5 linked regions of the Homo sapiens genome follow. The protein of the gene in region 2 interacts with the protein of the main gene of each other region in a biochemical or structural test. Each region holds a gene or a part of one and is shown on either strand. Other genes may lie near its edges.

The links.
Region 1: the proteins of ITGB3 (region 2) and EPS8 form a complex in vitro, tested with the Homo sapiens proteins (one study listed by IntAct).
Region 3: the proteins of ITGB3 (region 2) and GULP1 form a complex in vitro, tested with the Homo sapiens proteins (one study listed by IntAct).
Region 4: of the proteins of ITGB3 (region 2) and PDK1, one has a biochemical effect on the other in vitro, tested with the Homo sapiens proteins (one study listed by BioGRID).
Region 5: the proteins of ITGB3 (region 2) and RABGAP1 form a complex in vitro, tested with the Homo sapiens proteins (one study listed by IntAct).

Annotation. Positions count from the first base shown.
Region 1 is NC_000012.12:15,782,869-15,786,388, reverse strand, and holds part of EPS8 (epidermal growth factor receptor kinase substrate 8), read left to right. Parts: intron 1-3,520. UniProt on the Homo sapiens protein: Signaling adapter that controls various cellular protrusions by regulating actin cytoskeleton dynamics and architecture. Depending on its association with other signal transducers, can regulate different processes.
Region 2 is NC_000017.11:47,284,827-47,288,346, forward strand, and holds part of ITGB3 (integrin beta-3 precursor), read left to right. Parts: intron 1-1,433; coding exon 1,434-1,596; intron 1,597-2,243; coding exon 2,244-2,405; intron 2,406-3,520. UniProt on the Homo sapiens protein: Integrin alpha-V/beta-3 (ITGAV:ITGB3) is a receptor for cytotactin, fibronectin, laminin, matrix metalloproteinase-2, osteopontin, osteomodulin, prothrombin, thrombospondin, vitronectin and von Willebrand factor.
Region 3 is NC_000002.12:188,588,866-188,592,385, reverse strand, and holds part of GULP1 (PTB domain-containing engulfment adapter protein 1), read right to left. Parts: exon of another isoform or gene 2,647-3,520; coding exon of another isoform or gene 2,636-2,646; intron 1-2,635. UniProt on the Homo sapiens protein: May function as an adapter protein. Required for efficient phagocytosis of apoptotic cells. Modulates cellular glycosphingolipid and cholesterol transport. May play a role in the internalization and endosomal trafficking of various LRP1 ligands, such as PSAP.
Region 4 is NC_000002.12:172,559,078-172,562,597, forward strand, and holds part of PDK1 ([Pyruvate dehydrogenase (acetyl-transferring)] kinase isozyme 1, mitochondrial isoform 2 precursor), read left to right. Parts: intron 1-3,142; coding exon 3,143-3,214; intron 3,215-3,520. UniProt on the Homo sapiens protein: Kinase that plays a key role in regulation of glucose and fatty acid metabolism and homeostasis via phosphorylation of the pyruvate dehydrogenase subunits PDHA1 and PDHA2.
Region 5 is NC_000009.12:122,986,003-122,989,522, forward strand, and holds part of RABGAP1 (rab GTPase-activating protein 1), read left to right. Parts: intron 1-212; coding exon 213-417; intron 418-3,294; coding exon 3,295-3,469; intron 3,470-3,520. UniProt on the Homo sapiens protein: May act as a GTPase-activating protein of RAB6A. May play a role in microtubule nucleation by centrosome. May participate in a RAB6A-mediated pathway involved in the metaphase-anaphase transition.

The sequences.
Region 1 (3,520 bases), on a different chromosome or scaffold from region 2:
TTGTTAGACTTCCTTGTTTTTGATGATGTTTGAGGAGTACTGGTCAGGTATTTTGTAGAATACATTTGCATTGGAATTCATCTAATGTTTTTTCTCATGATTAGACTGTGATTATAGGTTTTTGGTAGAAAGATCACAGAGGTAACGTGCCATTTTCATCTCATATCAAGGGTATATACTATCAGTATGATTTGTCACTGTGATACTCATCTTTATCACCTGGCTGAGATAGTGTTTATCAGATTTTTCCACTTTTCTCCACCTTTTTCATGCTGTGCTCTTAGAAGGAAGGAACTGTGTATAGCCTATACTTAAGGAGTAGAGAGTTATGCTTCCCCCTTTGATGGTAGAAATCTATATAAATTATTTGGATATTTTTCTCCGTGGGAGATTTGTCTCTTCTCCCCCATGTATTTATTTACTCAATCATATTTATTTTGTTCTGGACTCATGGATATATATATATTATATAAATATAAAATCTATCTATCTATCTAAATATTTTGGGTTATAATACAATGCTACTTTGTTACAGCTTGACTCCAGTGCCTCTTTGACATACTACCATCAATGTGAATTTTGTTTTTTTGGAAGCATTTCCTTACTTTCTGGTATTATGAGATGCTCTAGGTTCATCTGTATACATCTTGCCACAGTCCTAGAATCAGTCATTTCTCCAAGGAATCTGGATCATTTTGTTGGGGAATGGTGTTAGAAACCAAGATCTGGGTGCTAGGTGTGCTTGTTGCTACTGTGGTATCATTGCTTCTAGGTTCTCTCATGTGACAAAGCAAGAAATACATGTGTGTATATGAACATATCTGTACATATTTTTATGTAACAGTTTGTATCCATGTTTAACTATGAATTTACATTTTATCTGTAATGCTAATTCATTACCACAGGTATCATTCTAGCCTTCTCCCTTTGTTTATATGTAAACTTACTCCAACAGTGAGAAGAAACCTGGTTTGCACCATCTGCCATACATTTGCTTAATCATTCATTTCTATCATAGATGTATAGCAGCATTGGAATTGTTAACCTGTGCTCCCATGGGAAACAACTTTAGCATCAAGAGTACAGTGTTTATGTACTATTCCTTTTGCTTTTAGTCTCACAGCTTCTACTCATTTCTAGAGTTAGTCAGCTAAGCACCTTTCCTCCTATCCTTTTCAGTGAGATTGTAGCACACATTTATAATACAGTTAGATTTCTTTGTTACAATCTGCATTCCACCTTGGGATTCCTTGACCTTCTAAATGATTTGCTTACGTTTGCATACATTAAAGTTTACTCTTTGTCCTGTGAAGTTCTTTGGGTTTTGACAAATACTTAATTTGATGTAGCTATCCTTATAGGATCATAGTATCATACCGAATAATTTCAACACATTACAAATCCCCTGGGCTTCACTCATAACCTCTGTGAGCCCCTCTCCCAGAAAACCACGTATCTTTTTACTGTCTCTTTACTTTTGCCTTTTCCAGATGTTGTATAATTGGAATCATACAGCCTTGCCAGACTGGCTTCTTTCATTTAGCAATACACATTTAAGGTTCATCCATGTCTTCCTGAGGTTTAATAGCTCATTTCTTTCTATCATTATCAGATATATCATGGTTTGTTTATTCACCTATTGAAGGATATTTTGGTTGCTTCCAGTTTTTGGCAAGTATGAACGAAGCTGCTATGAATATTCACATGCAGGTTTTTGGGTAGACATAAGTTCTTATATCCGTTGGATAAATATCTAGAAGTGCGATTGCTGGATCCTGTGGTAAGATTATGGTTAGCTTTGTAAGAAATTGCCAAACTGTTTTCCGAAGTGGCTGTACTATTACATTCTCACCAGCAATGAATGTGAGTTCTTATTGCCCCACATCTTTGCTAGCATTTGATTTTGTCAGCTTTTTTGGATTTTACCCATTCTAGTAGGTGTGTAGTAATATGTCATTGTTACTTTAATTTACTATTTCCTAATGACATATGATGTTAACATCTTTTCACATACCCCTTTTCATCTGTACATCTTCTGTGGTGTGATGGCTGTTCAGATCATTTGCCCACTTTTTAATGGGGTTGTTTTCTTATTGTTGATTTTAAGAGTTCTTTATACATTTTGTATACAGGCACTTTATCAGATATGTGTTTTGCAAATATTTTCTCCCAGTTTGGTTTGTCTTTTTATTTTCCTAACAGTGTCTTTGTCAGAACAGATGTCTTTAATTTTAATAAGGCCAACTTACCAATTTCATGGATAGGCTTTTGTGTTATATTTGAAAACTCATTGCCAAGGCTACATAGATTTTATCCTGTGTTTTTCCTAGAAGTTTTATAGTTTTGCATTTTACATTTAGGTATGTGATCCATTTAGAGTTAATTTTTATGAAAGGTATAAGGTCTGTGTCTAGATTAATTTTTTTTTTGCATATGGATTCCTAGTTGTACCAGCACAAGTAAATGTGATTTTTAAATTAATAGATTATAAATTGCTTAGAATTGAAAATGTTTTTATTAAAATTTTTATTACATGTTCTGCAAAATTACTTACTGTAAACAGTTGAGAAATGACTTAGAAACCAATATATAATACAGCATGTACTGTGTGCTGAGATTTATTTCTAGACATTGTACATAATTCATTTTCCTCTTTTTTTTTTTTTTTTTTTTACTAACTCAGAGATGCTTCTTTGTGAAAATGGAATTGTTAGTATAGAGTAACATCTGTCAGTTCTTTTAGATCTTATCATAGGGAATAATAGTTTGATTTTTCACAAAAAGGATCTGGAATAAAGGATTTGCAGGGTGTATGTTGAGAAGAGGCAGTTGATGTATGCACCAGCTAGAAATCTGAGACTTAACTATGTGGTCTTGAATCTTTTCCCATGCTATTCTTCCTGCTACAAGTGACTTTTTTCAAGTACAGTTGACCCTTCAATAGTGCAGCGGTTAGACTCACTGACCCCTGCACAGTCAGAAATTTTTGTATAATTTTTGACTTCCCAAAAACTTAACTAGTAACCCTTCTGTTGACTGGAAGCCTTACTGATAACACAGTCTGTTAACACACATTTTGTATATTATATGTATATTACATTGTATTCTTACAATAAACTACAGAAAAGAAAATTTTATTAGGAAAACCATAAGGGAGAGAAAATCCAGTACTGTATTGTACTTATTGATATTGTAAGTTTTTGTTTGCTTACCAGATGACTCCTCTTTCTGAAAAGGTGGGGGAATGGAGGGGCAGGGCTGGGAACTGCAGCTGCAGACCTCAATCTATGGTACATACCAAGCAATTCAACTTTATCTCTCATAATGTCATGACTTTTCTCTGTTTCTTGGGAGCATTTCTGGCATCTCTAGTGGCACGTTTTCATTCAAGGTTTATGGTATTGTACCAAACAGGATGAAAAATACAAGAGAACACCAAGAAATCATTTTTTACTGTGATACACAATTTACCGGAGAGATGAACTGCTCACGCAGAGATGATTAACATCACACAGTGGAC
Region 2 (3,520 bases):
GTCTCCCTGTTTGGCAAATGGGCTAGCTTGTGGATCTGGAGTGTTGTGTCAATGGAGCCTAAGGCTGTTTGGAGAACCTAGAAAGAAAATTCATCAGCTTCTCAGTCTTGGTAACAAATAAATAGAAGGCAAGAGAGAATGGGAGGGAAATGACGTCAAAAGTAGAAAGAAATTTATGGATAAGGAAACCGAGAAATTACGATTACAGAAGGATCGATTCCATTGTTGGCATTATTGTCTTCATCAAGGCCGTGCATCCTGCAGGGTGAAAACAGAAGAAATGAAGTGCTAAGGAATATAAAAGAGTGGAAATGACATTTGTTGGACACTTTTATAGTCTGTAAATGGATAACTTGTGCCTCTGTTTGACACTTTGGCTTAAAACTGAATGGCTTATTTATTTAATCGGTGGAGACTGTGCAAATCCATGTATTAGAATAACTTACAATGCTGGTTGCTGAGCCTGAAAAGGTGTGAATTTACTTTTTAGTTTTCAAAGTTACGGCCAGGTGGGGTGACTCACTTCTGTAATCCCAGCACTTTGGGAGGCCAAGATGGGAGGATCACTTGAGCCTAGGAGTTTGAGTTCAGCCTAGGCAACATAGTGAGACCCCCATCTCTACAAAAATTACAAAAAAATTAGCTATGTGTGATGGCGCATGCCTGCAGTCCCCAGGACTACAGGGAGGCTGAGGTGGGAGGATTGATTGAGCCTGGGAGGTTGAGGCTGCAGTGAGCCATGATTGTGCCACTGCACTCCAACCTGGACAATGGAGCACAACTGTCTCTAAAAAAAAAAGAAAAAGTTTTGAAGTTATATGATGTGGCATTCAACCTTCTATCTGGGTTGTAAGGTTCCCAGGCAAGACATCAGCTATTAATTAAACACACTATTTTGACTGGGGGCAGAAATGCTCCTGTCTTGCATGATCTATCAATTTATTGATGGTTCAGGGACCTTAACTTACTGATGGACTTTTGCTTTATTGTTACTTTAGGAAAGTGTTAAGTATAAGGTGATAGTAATAGCAACTCGAGCCTCGCTCTGGTCTAAGTGCTTTGTGTGTATGAACTTACTTAAGTCTCACAACTCTTATGGGATATGTGCTATCCTGGCCCCTCTTTCATAGGTTGGATTGAGAGGCTTGCCAAAGGTCCCATGACTAGTACAGAGGGCACCTGGGATCTAAGCTCAGGGAGTCTTGTTTCCAGCTCAATCTCTTATCTTCTAGGTTAGCTGGATGGGGGTAATGTTGATGGGGAGCTTCAGATAATTTGAGGATTTTGGAGTCTGAACTGTCTGGGTAACTGTGGTTGTATGGAACTGGCCTTGGCATACCACTATCTATATTTGTCCCCTCTCTTTCCTCCCAATTCCCATGCTGCCTTTTCCATGAAGGTGTCTGCTTAAATTATCTCCCATCCCTCCCCAGTATGAAGACCACCTGCTTGCCCATGTTTGGCTACAAACACGTGCTGACGCTAACTGACCAGGTGACCCGCTTCAATGAGGAAGTGAAGAAGCAGAGTGTGTCACGGAACCGAGATGCCCCAGAGGGTGGCTTTGATGCCATCATGCAGGCTACAGTCTGTGATGTGAGTTTGGAGGACTTGGAGTGCCAGGTGTGGCTGGCATAGATCAAAATGGGAAAGGAAGTGACTGAACTCTGGGGATTTCTGGTGTAAAATGAGATGAGAACTAAGCAGGGCTTCCTGCAGTTATGAGTAGTAAGTTGCTCCTGATATTCAGCCTTGGCTTAGATCCACTCCCTGGCCTGAGCTGACATTTCTTTGAACCTCAGTGGTCTCAGATGTTCCCAGGGGAGAGCATCTTCCCATCTTCAGAGTTACTTCAGAGTTAAGGCTGAGTTAACTTAACCTCAGCAAAGTAGGCAGATGTTCAGATGAGATTTCTTCTAGCCCAGATCAGCTCTGTGGATGCACGTCAGTTTCTAGATGAGCAATGTGACTGTCATTAGAAGAGTTAAGTTTGGAGTTTAAGAAGATCTCATTCAGCTGCTTGAACTAATCAGCTATGAGACTGTTTTCTGAAGAGAATGAAACTCCTGAACTGGAAAGCTTCAGCTTCGGTTCCAAGGACTGGGACTGAGACCCTTGTTTTGAAGAAAAATAAGCTGTCCAGCCCTTTAGCCAGGGAGCACCTTGGGTCTCTGTTCTCTACCAGTGACATGGCTGAATTTGTTTTGTCTCCTCTGCCTTTGTTTTTTGTTTTCTTTTAACAGGAAAAGATTGGCTGGAGGAATGATGCATCCCACTTGCTGGTGTTTACCACTGATGCCAAGACTCATATAGCATTGGACGGAAGGCTGGCAGGCATTGTCCAGCCTAATGACGGGCAGTGTCATGTTGGTAGTGACAATCATTACTCTGCCTCCACTACCATGGTGAGATCTCTGGCACCACCTATGGTTTCTATTCATGATTGTGAGGGTTGCCCTAATCTAGGCAGAGTCTGTGTGAATATGAAAATGGCAGCCCCTCCTTCTGGGCAGGGTGCAGGGCTCGGTTCCAGCTTGCCCCTATCCCTTACCAACTGGACACCGTCATCCAGCATACAACCTATATAACCATTAGAGATGTCCCTGATTGTGGTGTTATCACTGCCTTCACTGTCACCAGCATAGCAGCAGCATCATGGGATCCAGAATGGACCCAAAGGATTTTTACAACCCAGCTGGAAAGCAGGTCTTCCTCTCCACTCTGATTAGCCCTTTCTTGGAATACCATACTAACTTGTGGTTATTGGAAGAAGACAGAGGAAAAAAAAGAGAAAGATTGGCCAGGCATATGATGGCTCATGCCTGTAATCTCAGCACTTTGGGAGGCTGAGGTGGGAGGATCACGTGAGTCCAGGAGTTTGAAACCAGCTTGGGAAATATAGTGAGACCCTGCCTCTACAAGAAAATGCAAAAATTCGTTGAGTGTTGTGGTTTGTGCCTATGGTCCCAGCTACTTGTGGGGCTGAGGCAGAAAGATCTCTTGAGCCCAGTAGTCTGAGGCTGCAGTGAGCTGTGATCTTGCCACTACACTCCAGCCTGAGTGACAGAGCAAGAACCACCCCTGCTTTTTTTTTTTTTTTTTTTTTTTTTTTTTTTTGATACAGAGTCTTGCTTTGTTGCCCAGCTGGAGTGCAGTAGTGCAATCTTGGCTCACAAGCTTCACCACCTCAGTCTCCTGAATAGCTGGGACCACAGGCATGCACTACCATGCCCAGCTAATTTTTGAAAACAGGGTCTTTCTATGTTGCCCAGGCTGGTCTCAAACTCCTTGGCTTAAGCAATCTGCCCTCTTAAGCCTCCCAAAGTGCTGGGATTACAGGTGTGAGCCATTGCTCCTAGTGGAGACCCCTTCTCTTAGAAAGAGAGAGAGAGAGAGAGAGAGAGAGAGAGAGAGAAAGAGGGGAAAGAACATAAAAGGCATGGTGAACAGGTCCTACGAGGAAAGATTAAAGGGCCAGAGTCATTTAGCTTGAAAGAAAGAAGGCTAAAGGATGATTTAG
Region 3 (3,520 bases), on a different chromosome or scaffold from region 2:
TTCTTTAAAATTATTTTATTTGGATATCTGAAGATCTGTATATTATGTCATCTTCTGGTATATTACAAATGGTAAATAGATGATACATTGATAGATAATGACAGATAGAAAGAGAGTTACATGTGGAAATGTTTGATACCATACGGTACTTTTAAATTTTATCAGTTCATTCTGCTAGTAAACCAGTATCACTTCAATTACCCTGAAAATACTATTTGTCAATGTGTTATCAATATTGGAAAAGCAGAATAGCAGCCAAAGTAAAACAGAGGTCAATCACTATTTTAATAATAAAGTGTTAGTATATGACTTACAATAATATCTATCTCCATATTGACTTTTTAAGGATCCTTACATATTATAAGGTTTCTTGATTTTCTTTCTTCCTCAGATAAAATTTCCCACACCTGTTGAGCTTCAAACTTCTTAATAAAAATGAGACTTTATTTACTTATGTAGTGATGGGAATTATCATAAGCTAACGTCACACAAAAGAATGATTAAATAATTAAAGTATTATTCACCATATGCTTTTTATACGAAAGATTTTGATGAATTTTCTTATTTTGAAATAGAAAAGCATATCAAGGAAAGAAAAATCACTACATTTTGAGGTATGTCTTTTTTTCTATCTATACATTTTTAAAAATGATTTTAATGATAATATGAATATATATTTATGCCATATAATTTTCTTATGTAAGTAATATATTACATATAGTTTTCTATCTTCCTCTTTTCATCTTTGCAGACCCTGATTATTTTAAATTCCCACAAAACTAATTTATTATGACTATATAAAATGCTATTAATTTTTATGATTGTTTCCATCGTAAAAATGCATTTTACGTTGATTTGAAAAAAAATCGTTCAGCATTTTAAAATTATGAATAATGTTGACTAGGTATTTTTATTCGCAGAGATTGAACACATTCATACTTATTTTTTCATCAGAATAGATTGCTTTAAAGTTTTGATATCAAACAGAAATAAAAGTATTAATAACAAGCTACCCTTTAAAGAGACTGCTAGGCCATAGTTACCTCTGAACTAACTCTGGACTGCCAACAATTTACAGTGCTTGTTTTATCACACTTTCAGTTGTATTGATTGATTATTAGTTTAAAAAATAATCTGCTAGATTAAAATAGCATTACAGTTCTTTATTTGATTTATATGTTTACTTTGATTAGACAGAACATGTCTACATATGTGTAAGCCACTTGTGGTCTTCTTTTGTGAACTAGTGCTTTTTTATTTATCTGTTGATTCTTTAGTTTCCTAGCCATTTGTCTAATTGCTTTAATTATGTATATGTAATGTATTTATATATTTTTAGACAGTAAATTTTAAAAAATTGGATACTATATGTCCGTATTTTTCTTTTCCTTATAAAATTTTCTTTTCAATTCAAAAGTCTGATGAATATTCAATAATATTTTAAATATTTTAAAATGTTGATTACTTCTGAAATTTATCTCGGCATTTGCTGTAAGTTTCAGCAGTACATTGATCTTCTCCCAGAGTACTAGCTAGCTGACTTAACACCACTCATACATGATTCTTTCATCATTCATGAACTTGCCATGCTTGTTTTTTAATGTATTAAATTATTATAGCTCACATGTTACAGTGTGGGCTATCAATACTATTCCACTTATTTTCCTGTTGGTGACATGTACTGGACAGTTTAAATTATGTCAAATCAAATAGCTACATTATTGATTTCAAATAGATGTTTAATTTTCTAACTGCTTATACTGAAATATGGTCTAACATTTCTGCATAAATGCTTACATGCATGAGATGTTTCTGTGATTTCAAACTTAATAATTCGATTCTCTTAAAAATAGCTTAGTCACAATACTCTGTAAATGAAAGATGAAAACTAAATGTCTCACTAGGCTTATTAACTCAATATGGTGTTCACAACCCATTGTACTATATTAAGTTTTTATATGATATGCAAAGATAGCTAAATGTCTGCATTAGATTCATTAGGCTAGCACGATTAATAATAAAAGCCATCATAGACTTTAGATGAAGAAAATATTATTTTACTTTTGTTAAAGTGACCTTGCAAGTAAATATTGGACTAAAAGAAACAATCATGGCCAAGTATGGTGGCTCATGCCTGTGGTCCAAGCACTTTGGGAGGTCTAAGTGGGTAGATCGCTTGAGCCCAGCAGTTCAAGCCCAGTCTGGACAACATGATGAAACCCTGTTTTTAACAAAAAATACAAAAATTAGCCACGCGTGGTAGTGCACACTTGTAGTCTCAGCTACTCAGGAAGCTGAGGAGGGAAGATTGCTTGAGCCCGGGCGGTGGAGGTTGCAGTGAGCCAAGATCATGCCACTGCACTCCAGCTTGGGTAGGGCGATAGAGTGAGACTCTGCCTCAAAAAAAAAAAGAAAAGAAAGGAAACAATGAAGTGAACAATGCAATAGTGACTAAGTCACTGAAAAATAATCTTAAAATGTGGTTTATAAAACCTCTCTAAACATAACTAATTATCAGATATACCCATATGAAGCTGTTGTTTGAATTTTTATTAAATAAGGCATGCAAATTTTAAGGTTTCAGCTTTAAAAATTTGTAAGTTGTTTAAAATTATTATAAAAATAATATACCAACCATCTCTGGCGCTACCCACCATGAAAGCAGTAAAGAATTTAAAAAGACATTAAGAAAATATTAGAAACAGCAAAAGCAAAAACACCACGGTTTAACATTGAGTGTCACCATCACTCAATCATCCCAATACATTGTGTCTCACACTTGGTTTCAACAAAATCTGGAAATAGAGGCTTATCCTTAAAACTCCATAATTTTTTTTCCAATTTTGGGAAAATCTAAAAAATTTTTAGAGAAGTACTCTGTATGACCTGTGCAACCCTTGAGAATAAATACTACCACATAAATATTTCTTTGTTACTACAAAAGCATTAGTACCAGATAGTACATGTCCAATGGGTAAAACTAATGTAAAAGAAAAGGAATTGATTTCATATGAAATACAGCATTCTTGCTAAATTATCATGCGCCATTTGAAAGTTTCATAGCGTTTGAAATATAGAAAAGAACTAGGAAATCTGTGCCATCAGATAGAATACATGTTGAAATCAATAGAAATTTGATAAGGTGGTTTTAGCTTTAACCAAATAAGATCATCCGTCCTGTATTGGTGTTGCAATTTGGCTTTCATTTAATTTATAATTTATTGAATTCATAATTTTATAAAAACCATAAGGACAAGTTGTTTATAACATTTTTGTCAATATTTAAAAATTGTAAGTTAATACTAAGGATCTAAAACAATTTTTATGTAAAAGGGGATTAAGAATCATTCAACTTGAGAAACACTGTTTTAATAGATTCTTTGAAAACCTCAAGACATATGTTAAGTAATTCAACTTTTAAATTCAGGCATGTTATTACATCTAGAACAATAATGAATTCATGTACTACCTAGAAAATAAGATAGCTACACAGCTGCAGTCAAAAATGAGTAAAAGGGCA
Region 4 (3,520 bases), on a different chromosome or scaffold from region 2:
AACTGGGATTACAGGCACGTGCCACCACGCCCAGCTAATTTTTGTATTTTTAGTAGAGACAGGGTTTCACCATGTTGGCCAGGATGATCTCGGTCTCCTGAACTCGTGATCCACCCACCTTGGCCTCCCAAAGTGCTGGGATTACAGACGTGAGCCACCGTGCCCGACCAGAGTCTTAAGGTAGTAGCAGTATTCTTTTTTTGGCTGGGGGCAGGTGGGGGCAATGTATTTGGGCTTGTGCCCTGAATCGTGGACTCCACAACTTCTTGATTTTGAGAAAGCCAGTCAAAACTGCACTGAAATACAGATGCTAAATTTAGGATTTATGTTAGTATATCTTCAAGGATATTATAAGAAAAAATGTCTGCAATTTGTTGATGACTGGGTATTTATGTATATTGCCTTTAATCCCTTCAACAACCTTGCACAGTGGGTATGATTCTCTCCATTTTATTCATTGTTATTATTTTTATTTACTTTTTGTTTTTGAAATGGAATCTTGCTCTGTTGCCCAGGCTGGAGTGCAATGGCATGATCTTGGCTCACTGCAACCTCTGCCTCCTGGGTTCAAGTGATTCTCCTGCCTCAGCCTCCAGAGTAGCTGGGATTACAGGCACCTGCCACCATGCCTGGCTAATTTTTGTATTTTTAGTAGAAATAGAGGTTTCACCATGTTGGCCAGGCTGGTCTCAAGCTCCTGACCTCAGGTGATCCTCCCACCTTGGCTTCCCAAAGTGCTGGGATTACAGGCATGAGCCACCACTCCTGGCCTACTTATTTTTTTGAGACAGGTTCTTACTCTGTCACCCAGGTTGGAGTGCAGTGGTGATCACAGCTCAGCTCACTGCAACCTCCACCTCCCTGGCTCAGGTGATCCTCCCACCTCGGCCTCCTGAGTAGCTGGGACCACAAGTGCATGCCACACCCAGCTAATTTTTGTATTTTTTAGCAGAGATGGGGTTTTTCCATGTTGCCTACGCTGGCCTCAAACTCCGGAGGTCAAGGTATTTGCCCACCTGGGCCTCTCAAAGTGCAGGGATTATGGGCATGAGCCATTGTGTCTAGCCTGTTTATTATTTTTTAAATTAATTTATTTTCTTTTTAGAGACAGGGTCTCCATCACCCAGGCTAGAGTGCAGTAGTGTGATCATGGCTCACTGCAGTCTTGACCTCCTGGGGTCAAGAGATTCTCCTGCTAAGGCAGCTGCCTCCCGAGCAGCTGGGACCACAGCCATGCGCCACCATACCTGACCAATTCTTTTATTTTTTTGTAGAGATGGGGGTCTCACTTTTTTGCCCAGGCAGGTTGTGAACTCCTGGGCTCAAGCAGTCCTCTCACCTTGGCTTCACAAAGTGTTGGTATTACAGACATGAGCCACCGCACCTGGCAGGTTAACTCTGTACAGATGAGGATGCTGAGGCACATAAAGGTTAAATCTTTTGCGTAAGACAGTACCATTGATAGTGGAGTTGGGATTCAAACCCCCATTTGTCCATCTCTGCTATACCGTGCTATAGTCAGAATGATGAAATATATGAAAGGATATATGTATTTTTAATAAACTGTGTTTATTGAAGGGTATCTTTTTATAAATTACAAAAGTTAAAATGTTTATTTTTCTGTTTTAAAACAATTAGAAGTTTTTGGAATTGTGTAGAAAAAGTGTGATCTCTTCCCAAAGATAAGTAGAGATGTTAAGGGTATACACTCATGGAGCCACCTATATACAGCCTTCATTAATGTTACTGATTTAAAAGTGTTGTTCTTTTAAGCACTGTATGCTTCAAACAAATGAGTTGCCCAGAGTTAAGTCTTAAATGGAAAAGGTTTAGCTGCAGGGCATTTCCCAGTTATGATTCATGGAGATTCAAGTTTTCTTTTTGTAAGCATTATAGCGTATGGGAGAAGTTGATCTAATCGCAATTTAAAAAAGCAAAATATGACTGCTATATATATGATAATCAGATGCTATCTAGTCCAAGTATGGAATAGTTATAAGTGTGGATTAAATGGGAAGCATTTGTTTAGTAATTATGATGGGATATAATGGAGAAAATATAATATTCCATGGAAGATTTTTCCTGTTTTTAAAAAATTCTTCATTAGAAGTAGAATATGCTGCTTTTTGAAGCTTATCAGTCATGAGGTCTGATCGGTGCCTGTTGTAGGTACTCAAATATCTCTTGGATGGAGAGCGTAGTTGTTCTTGCCAATTAAGAGGAAATTAAGGGTTAAAGCAAAGCAGCAGCTGCTATCAGAATCCCTTAACTTTGGAATGCAGTAAGACATATTGCTTGTCAGAAACAGCTTTCCAAACCAACAGATGGAATTACAGGTTTTTAAAGCACTTCCATTGCTCCTAGATGCCTGCTAAGTTAGGACAGTTGCAGATAAAGTGCTTACAGCCAAGTGGAGCAGATCCCTTACACTGTCGAAGAAAGTAATTCAGTGGTAGCAAGTTATTTTTAGCTCTGGCCCCGCAGTGCCATTGTACTTGCCTGCAAGACCATCAGAAAATCATTTGGCCTTCTCTATTTTGCTCATTCCTTAACAGATGCTTTGATACTTCGAATTGTTAGATAAATTTAAAATGTACATTTTTATGACTTTTGTGTTTTTTGTTCAGTTTAAAAGAACCATGTAGATTATAGGCTTTCAATAAATACTTGTTAGTTGGACATAAATATGTAAAATTAAGGTTTTAAAGCACAGATATTTAAGATACAGTCTTAGAGCAAGAGAGGCTGTCCTCCTTTTACTGATAATAAGACAAATTAAGTCATTTGCCCAAGATCACATAGTTACTGGTGACAGATCTCAGCATAATCAGTATATATACTGTAATGTACAGTGGTAAATTAAAAAAAAATTAAAAGCCATTTTAGAATGTAGAACTCGGAAAATCTTAAAATTCTTAAATTTGACCTTTGCTTTTAGGAGAAAATGTGCACCTTCTACCATTCATTCCCAGCACTTTGCTTGAATGTGCATGGGTGTAAAAATTATACTTCAACCATAATTTATAGCAGTATTCTAAATTAAAAATTATAAAATGCTAAAAATAGCTTTTGAGCTAATTTTCATGATATTGAACTTTCAGAATATAAAAGAACAAACTTATCCTATTGATCTGCATTTTAGGTATATCCAGAGTCTTCAGGAGCTTCTTGATTTTAAGGACAAAAGTGCTGAGGATGCTAAAGCTATTTATGAGTAAGTTCACTATTTTGACCCTATTCTTAAACCTATTATTAGGTCACTTGGGGGAAATTGGTTAACTTTTAGGTTTCTACTACTTTAGAACATGTGATATATGTGACTGTAGCAGCCCATACAGGCAGGACAAATAACAATCAGCAAATTTGACTAGGCATAAGAAATGCTTCGTGTTCCTCTTTAACAAAAGACAAAGTTCAGGTGTGATGATCAGTGGAAATGTAGGTGTGGCCTCAGTGCCAGTTGGACTGTTCACCTGGAGGGTGCATGCTCCTTCTAATGGACAACCACCTTCAGCCCCAG
Region 5 (3,520 bases), on a different chromosome or scaffold from region 2:
GCTCAACCTGTACCTAAAAATCTTGGTGTTTCTGACAGAGTTCTAGTGTGGGATTTCTGGTTTTCATGGGCATTTCTTTTAGGGTATGGCATATTGTCTCATTAATACTTAATTTTAGACCTTAAATGTTACTTGCAGATTTTTACTTGCTAATCGTATCAACAAAATATCAAAGTGAAAGTAATCACTTCCTTATTCATTGTTTCTTTCAGATTCTGAAGCTTCAAGTCCTTTCACACCAGTGGCCGATGAGGACAGCGTAGTTTTCAGTAAACTGACTTACTTAGGCTGTGCCTCGGTAAATGCTCCCAGGAGTGAAGTGGAAGCCTTAAGGATGATGTCCATCTTAAGAAGCCAGTGTCAGATTTCACTAGATGTTACCCTTTCAGTGCCGAATGTGTCTGAAGGAATTGTGAGGTGAGACTGGTTTGTTGAAATCTTTCGATATTTACATCAGATCTCTGACCTGTTGCTTCAGAAAGAAGCAATAGTGAATAAAATACATATTAATAGTTATTTTACTTGTGTAACGTTTCATTTACCTGGCACTCATGTCTCCCAAGGACTGTGACCTTTGTGAAAAATGGTTACTTATTTGTAATAGTTTTTCGTACTCTTCCCGATCATGTGTAGTACATTAGGCATTTAATGTTTTGGGGATAAATGAAATATATTGACATGAGTCAGCCTAAAAGATTATATTTTCCATGTTCCTTTGATGAAAATACAAGCTTGACACATTATTTCAAAATGGAGTTTCATGTTGAGTTTGAAAGTTACAAAAATTTATTATTAAATATTAACTATACCAGCACACCCCTTAATTTTTATGATGAGAAAACTGGCTAGGTGCAGTGGTTCATGCCTGTAATCCCAGCATTTTGGGAGGCTGAGACGGGTTGATCACTTAAGTTCAGGGGTTCGAGACCAGCCTGGGCAGCCTGGGCAACATGGTGAAACCCTGTCTGTACAAAACATACAAAAATTAGCCACGCATGGTCATACACACCTATAGTCCCAGCTACTCAGGAGGCTGAAATGGGAGGATCACCTGAGCCTGGGAGTTCAAGGCTTCAGTGAGCTGTGATCATGCCACTTCACTCCAGACTGAGTGACAAAGTGAGACCCTGTCTCAACAAAGCAAAATGAAAAAAAAAGATGAGAAAACTGAGGCACAGAGAAGCCTCTAGCTGTTTATACTAATAGAACAAATAACAATTGCAGATAGCTAATCAGATGTCTGTATCAACCAGCTAAATATACTGTTGCTCAATAAGTCAGATGAATGCAGGTAAAATAAATTTTTTTTCCCTATTACCAAAGATACATGCTTATTTAAAAAAATTGCCACATAAAAATAGCCTTAATTCTACTCTACCACTAATAAATACAGTTAACATCTTGGCTTATTAAGATCTTCTTTGCATATTGGTATATGTATATGTCTAGGTATATGTAAATATACCTGCATATATATACATACATAATTTACAACTGTTAGAATCAACTTTTTTTTTTAACAGCAATGGACCTGTACATACCATCTTGTACTTAGTTTTATATCGTAAACCTCTTTTCATGCCAGTAAATATTATTAAAAATTTTAATTTATGATGGCATATGAATGGGTTATAAATAAATAACCCATCTCTTATATTAGACATTTTAAGGCTTTTATCTTTCAGAGAAAAAAGCATGAATGATGATAGCTAGTTTTAATTATATGGGAATATCAGTGTTTTATAAATAGGTATCTTTGAGCTCAATCTTTTTAGACTTCTGTTGATTTCCTTAGGATAAATTCCTAGAAGTAAACTTATTGAGTTTGTCTATTTTTATTGCTTCTAATAACATTGCCAACTAGCCATCTAGAAATATTGATCTAGTTTATACTTTTATCAGCAGTATATAGAATATCCATTTCTCAGTATCCTCAGAAGTATTTTGGACTTTCATGGTGACAGAGTAATAGCTGTGTGTTGATTGTAGTAAAATAATCTGTATATGTAATTTTTCCCCTTAAGTATTTAAATAACTATTTTGCAAAGACTCACAAATTCTATTTATTAATGATAAACTATTAATAAAATGTGTTTAGCACTCATTTCTATATGTTTCTTAGTCAATACTCATTCCTCTAACTGAAGTTAGACTTTAATATATTTTTAATTCTATAAAAGAAGTTAGAAAGCTAGTCGGTTTTACCCCACATTTTTAGAGTTTTCATAAAAGTGCTTTCAAACCTGTGTTAGATCCTCTTCCTAGGTATTTCCGTGATGAGCAAGGCCTTCTAGGCTTTCCCATTAATGGCTCTACCCACATAGTGTTGAAATTGCATAGTTTCTTTTTAGACCTTCCATAGTTGTGCCTTACTGCCCTGATCAGAGTCTGGAATGTTGTAGGTATCACATAAATATTTGTTGAATAAGTAGATTTTTGAATGAATGCTATCCCTTTGATTTTTTACTGAATGGCATCCTTTTGCTTTTATTCATGATTTTTTTTTTTTTGAGGAGTTAACATTTTGTATAATTTCTGTCCTTATTTTCCATGAATCAAAAAAAAACTTGTTTCAGTCTGAGAAAAAGCATCAGTTTTTTGTTTTTTATTTTTTCATAACAGATTAGGTCATTTTTAAAGGAGATAATTAGAAGCACAGCTTTGCCCAGGTGTGGTGGCTTATGCCTGTAATCCCAGCACTTTGGGAGGCCTAGGTGGGCGGATCACCTGAGGTCGGAAGATTGAGACCATTCTGGCTAACCTGCCCTGTCTCTACTAAAAATACAAAAAATTAGCCGGGCATGGTGGCACATCCCTGTAATCCCAGCTACTTGGGAGGCTGAGGCAGGAGAATCACTTGAACCCAGGAGGCGGAGGTTGCGGTGAGCTGAGATTGCGCCATTGCACTCCAGCCTGGGCAACAAGAGCGAAACTTGTCTCAAAAAAAAAAAAAAAAAAGCACAGCTTCAATGATGTATTTTGGTAGTCTAATTTACGTATTAATCGTCTTTATTTTGTAGCAGACTGTATAAGAAATGTGCTTATTGATATTGTTTATACCTTTCTGTTTGCCTCCCTAAAACATGATACTATATGGTTTTTAGTACTATGGAATTACGTAATCAATAGCTTCCGGAATTCACATATGAGTTACTTATTAAAATTTAAGGTTAATATCAGCATACCAAATATATGATCTTCTTACTAGAAAGAATGAGTCTCACATCTTAATCTAAACGTAGTGCAGATTGTTCATAATTCCTGTAATCTCTCTGTATCTTTTTCTCTGAACAGACTCTTAGATCCTCAGACAAACACTGAAATAGCAAACTACCCTATCTACAAAATCCTCTTCTGTGTCAGAGGGCATGATGGAACTCCTGAGAGTGACTGTTTTGCTTTCACTGAAAGTCATTACAATGCAGAGCTCTTCAGAATACACGTCTTCCGGTGTGAAATACAAGAAGCTGTAAGTCCTCAAGAGAAAACTCTCTGCAAATGAAACTTCACCAGTGCCCTC